Linked DNA regions of Homo sapiens: region 2 is linked to region 1. The links come from fine-mapping of genetic effects on gene expression. Tissue or cell type: esophagus muscle. Region 1 holds a variant in brackets; the other region holds the start of a gene. All regions are shown on one strand. Distances are from middle to middle.

Region 1 (2,752 bases):
TGGAAATCCTGGGCTGGGCACTCTGCTGTGGCTGGACCTGCCCCAGGTCCCTGCTGTCGCTTTGCCATCTGAGGTTAGCAGCTGCCCTCAGAACCGACCCCGGGGATGTTTAGAATACTGGGGCTGAGCTTCACCCGAGGAGATTCTCACTTGATTGCCTGTGATGGGGCCCAGACCTGTGGTTTTTAAAGCTGGCAGGCCATTGCTCTGTGCCTCCAGAGCTGAAGGCTCTTGACATAGCTGTTCTCGTTTGTGGCTGGCTCACCAGAGAGGCCGTGGTAGGACAGACCCCACTGGGCCTGGTCCCAGGGTTGAGAGCATGCGGGGCTACCCTGAGACTCCTGAGCCTCCTCAGCCTGCCCTGCCCTGTCCTGTCCAGACACAGAGAACACTTGGGCTCTGCTGGGCTTGTGGCCCATGCCCGCTACACTCACCCAGGACCATGCGATCCGCAACCCTGGGTACTGCTTGGTGACCTCCAGCAAAGACTGCACTGAATGAGGCCGGCCAGCACGCACAACGCGGCCCGACCTCTGAGCTACCCAAAGGGAGAGCAGCAAGTTGCCTGTGCGTGGCTGGTTCCTGTGCGCCCATAGGAGCATGAAACGCCCCCAAAGGGCCCACTGGCCAGATGGTCACTGGGGCAGGCGGGCAGCTGCCATTCACTGGACTCCTAATTGTGTTGATTGGATTTTTACCTGGGACATGTATTTCCTTTTCAAACACAATGTCAAAGTCAGGAAAGCGGCTGGATGCAGTAGGAGGCCCAGGCGGGTGGATCACTTGAAGTCAGGAGTTGGAGACCAGCCTGGCCAACACGATGAAACCTGTCTCTACTAAAAATACAAAAATTAGCTGGGCGTGGTGGTGTGTGCTTGTAGTCCCAGCTACTTGGGAGGCTGAGGCGGGAGAATCACCTGAACCCGGTAGGTGGAGGTTGCAGTGAGCCGAGATCGTGCCATTGAACTCCAGCCTGGGCAACAAGAGCAAAACTCCAGGCTGGGTGCGGTGGCTCACGCCTGTAATCCCAGCACTTTGGGAGGCTGAGGTGGGAGAATCACTGTAGCCCAGTAGGCGGAGCTTGCAGTGAGCTGAGATCATGTGACTGCACTGCAGCATGGGTGATAAAGTGAGAGTCC[A/G]TTAAAAAAAAAAAAGCTGAGGAAAGTAACAAATAACCAGAACCAATCATCACCATCAAAACTATTACCGGGCACTGTCATGGGCAGGTGCTGGGACTGGCCAGGCTCGTGGGCAGGGAAAGCAAGGCTCTGCCCAGGGCTGGAGGGAACTTACTCTGAGAGGATCTCCTTGTTTCCTCCTGCCCTCACTCTGCCTTCTCTCCAAGCACAGCTCTGAGCCCAGAGGAAGCCGAGTCAGCCCTGGAGGCGGCCCATTATTTCACAGAGGACAGCTCCTCAGAAGGTGAGCGGCCACTGGAACACCCGACATGCCCAGCCAGCACTCTGCAGCCACCGCCGCCTTCCTGTGGGGCTCGGGCAGTGGCCAGCAGTCCCACCTGGGCTCAGGGAGCAGGCCGCATGGGGTTCTCCCCAGGGGACCACGGGCTGGGCTCTGCCATGCTGGCGGGGGCTGGGGCCGCCCCCTGTGGATGTCCTCACTCCTGTTTCTCTTGTGTCTCTGTCTTCCTGGACCTTGGCTCCTCCCCACTCTGCCCCTCTGCCTCTCCTCTGCTGTCCCTTCCAGCATCTCCTCTGGCCTCAGATCTGGATCTTTTCCTGCCCTGGGAGGCTCAAGGTCAGTCCCTGGAAGGCAGGGGCGCCCCCTGTACCTCCTAACACTCTTCCTGCACTATCAGGAAGCCTGGAAGCTCTTTGTCCCAGGGACCTCTCTGGGACTTCATCCTCTGGGGCATAAGTTCTGAGAAGGACCCAGAAGCAAGCCACTCCTCTGCACCGCCTCCGTGTCTGCTGTAGGTGGGCGGTAAATAAGGCCCCCACACTAGGCGCCAAGCAGGCCCAGGGCAAGGCCTCCACAGCCACATGTTAGAGACATTCTGTCTTCCTGTGAGTAGGAAACAAATACAAAATGCTGTCATTGGAGCGTGTGAAAGACACAGTGTGGCTGAGTGGGGGCTGGAAAGAATAGTGGATGCTTTCCTAGGAAAAATCTTCATGTTCCACGTCACGTTTTTTGTTAAGGAAAAACACGCATGTTGAGTGCCTGTTAGAACTCATCCCTGTGCTATGTTTAAAGCCTGTTGGGAGCATCTGATCCCAGGTGATGGGAGCATGCTAGGCCCTGGGCTTTCGCAGTCGAGCTGGTGACATGCAGCACACTTGCAAAACCGACCATAATGCCACCTGGTGGTTTCACATGGGGGATAATGCACACCAAGGAACCGACTCAAAAGAGAACCAAAAATAGTGTGTACCAAGATGCCCATGGCAGTCCTGGTGACAGTGGCAGAGGCTGACTTGAGCTTGAGGACCTTGATTTCAAGGACAGAAACTACAGAAGCAGGTACACCTTCTGTTGTACATGGAACCAGCAGGCCACTCTAGGCTTGTCCCGCATGCTTCTGGGAGCGGCATGTTGGTGCAGAGCCCTGGCCTCAGACCGCATGTGGCCCCCAGGAAGCAGGGCCTCCATTCCAGGGTGAGTTGCCTGAGCCCAGAGAGGTGTGCCCTTCACTGCCACCAGACAGCCAGCGAGAGCAGCTCAGAACTGGGGTGCTGCCGACCTGCCTGAGGTGCCCCCACCAGCCACACTGCCTTTGGGGAACAGCTCCAGG
Region 2 (2,626 bases), 40 kb before region 1:
AACCACTGGGATTAAGGAACAAGACGACTCTTTACCTCCTCTCAGGGTGTTAAAAAGTGCAGTTCTTCCAAATTCTTTCCCTCTAGAGAGCACAATGACAATATTAGTTCAGACTTCCAAGGTGTTGAAGAAAGCCCGCCTCTGCATCTTGAAAGCTGATTCCTATATCCAGCAACATTGAAGAAGACTGCAGATCACTCTGGGTGTCAACTGCATGTACCTACATCCATCGCACCAAGATTCTTGAGTGCCAATCACAGAAACCCACCTGGAAGTCAGGTCCAGCTCCAAGGATGGTTTAACTGCCCCCTTCCCTTTGCCCTCTAGCCAGACCCTGGTGAGGGTTCCAGCCAGCAGGGTGACCCCACATCCCAGTCGACCCCGGACAGGCCCCAGGCCCGTTGTCCCAGGTGGAGTTGACAGCCCCCTCATGCAGAAGGCTGTGTGTGGACTGGCGCTGCCCCTGCAGGCCAACACTGGGAGACCAGGGACCCGCATTCGCCTGCAGCCAGCCTCACACTTGCGCAGAAGCCGCCACTGGGCCCAGGGCCAGTCCAGACCCCATCCCCAGGGCCGGCCAGCCTCTGTGACCCGTCTGTCAGGGGAGGGGCAGCACTGATTTCCAAGGATGCAGCCCGTATCAGGGCCTCCTGGCACCTGCCCTGCGCTGGAAGATTCTTCTAGTCTCCCGGCCCCAGTGTCAGAATTCTGAGAACTGGCCGGGCGCGATGGTTCACTCCTGTAATCCCAGGACTTGGGAGGCCAATGTAGGCGGATCACCCGAGGTCAGGAGTTCGAGACCAGCCTGGCCAACATGGTGAAACCCCGTCTCTACTAAAAATACAAAAAAATTAGCCGGGCGTGTTGGCGGGAGCCTGTAATCCCAGCTAAAGAGGCTGGGGCAGGAGAATCACTTGAACCCGGGAGGCAGAGGTTGCAGTGAGCTGAGATTGCGCCACTGCACTCCAGCCTGGGCGACACAGCAAGACTCTGTCGAAAAAAAAAAAAGAAAAGAAAGCTGAGAATTAGGAGGAACTGCAAACCCTTTCCAGGCGCCCTTTGCAGTGCTAACACGCCCCGGGTTGCACGCGCAACCAGCCAAAAGCCGCCAAACTCTGCTTCTTGACATCCTTCTCTCACACTGCACAGCTTTCAAAACGCCAGAAGCCCTGCTCTGCACAGCGGCTCCCCTGTCTGCGGACTGGGCCGTTCCGTTCTGGACCCAGGCCGGAGGCCGTGGGCTGCACCGCTCCAGGAGGCCAGGCTGGCGCGCGCCCGAGGCCGGGGCTGAGGGGGCGGCGCGGAACTCGGGCCGCGTGCGGGAGCGCCACACGCCCGCCAGGGGGCGCCGCCCGCCCGGCCCCGCCCCGCCCCGGCCCGCTCCGCACGCTCCGCTCCGCACGCTCCGCTCCGGGACGCCGACGGCGGCGGGCGCTTCCGTCTCGCGGGCCTCGGCCCGGTGCGAGCGGCTCCGCGATGTGGCTGAGCCCGGAGGAGGTGCTGGTGGCCAATGCGCTGTGGGTGACGGAGCGGGCCAACCCCTTCTTCGTGCTGCAGCGACGCCGGGGCCACGGCAGGGGCGGCGGCCTTACGGGTGAGAGGCGCGCGGGCGGCCGGGCCTGTGGGCGCCGCGGCTGGGCTGGCGGCGGGGCTGGCGGCGGGCGGCGGGCGGGTCCGGTTCCGGCCCGGCCTCGGCGCGTCGCGGCGGACACGCACGCCAGCGCGCGGCGGGGCGGGGGCGCGAGGCCAGGACCCGGGAGCCGGGCGCGGAGGGGCCGGGGCGGGGAGGCGAGGGGCTGGCGGGAGGCGAATGCGCCCTCGGCGGGCTCTCCTCAGGTCGGCTTGGGGCGGCCAAGTGGAGACCGGCGGCGGCTTCTGCCCGGATTCGGCGCCCGCGAGCCCCGGGGGCCGTGCAGCTTCCCGGGATCTCACCGCCGAAAGTTGGCGAGACCGCCCTGTCCTCATCCTCCACCTCAGTTTCCCCAGGTGCCTCTAAGGGGCCAGGTGACGCCAGCGCACGTTTTCTTTTGCCCTCTTCTTCGTGCCCATCTCACCAAAGTATCGCCCTTTTAGCAAGATCAGAGGTCCCTGGAGCTGGCCGCACCCCCATTCCCCCAGCTTCTCCTCCCCCACCTTTCCTGCTCCTGGCTGCTCTCAGAGCTGCGCACCCAAGGCTGTGGGTAGCGGCACAGGGTGTTCCTGCAAGCTCGCCAAGGTGGCCCTTTGTGGGCCCGGGTGCCACCATCACACAGGATGAAGCTGGACAGGCACCCTTGGAGTCGTGCGGCCTGTGGGATCCAGGGGAGGCCCACAGGCCACTCCCTCCGCAGGTGGTGTCCGGGGCCCCTCATGCTCCAGGGCCTGCGCCCAGCACTGCAGGAGCCCGGCTGGCTCGGGCTCAGTGCCTGTGCTCTTCGGGGCACCGACTGTTGCCCTACAGGATTGCGGTCCCAGTGTTGCCAGGTCGTCCAGTTTATCAAGAGCATTTTCTGTGAATCATCCTGATTTTCAGTGTGAGCAGCTAATAGCCAGATGCAGACGGAGGCTTCTCCTGGGCCACGTTTCTTCATGTGGAAGAGACTGTTCTGTTCCCAGAAACACTCAGTGTTCCCTTCAGCTTCGGGTT

What was found. PIP is the estimated chance that this variant, and not a neighbour inherited with it, causes the effect.
Region 2: TBC1D9B starts here. The variant in region 1 is fine-mapped to the expression of TBC1D9B in esophagus muscle (GTEx, PIP 0.92).

What each region holds. Positions count from the first base shown.
Region 1 is chr5:179,866,448-179,869,199 of GRCh38, reverse strand. It overlaps TBC1D9B (TBC1 domain family member 9B), which reads left to right. Exons shown (of 21, transcript NM_015043.4): 18 at 1,351-1,422. Among named protein-coding and RNA genes, the nearest start is that of MRNIP-DT, 8.8 kb to the right of the region's middle. RefSeq lists an enhancer at 1,527-2,053. The variant A/G (reference allele first, on the strand shown) is at 1,140.
Region 2 is chr5:179,906,672-179,909,297 of GRCh38, reverse strand. It overlaps TBC1D9B (TBC1 domain family member 9B), which reads left to right and starts at 1,401. Exons shown (of 21, transcript NM_015043.4): 1 at 1,401-1,594. The coding sequence starts at 1,477. RefSeq lists silencers at 1,250-1,409, 1,480-1,539, 1,550-1,689, 1,740-1,789 and an enhancer at 1,670-2,447.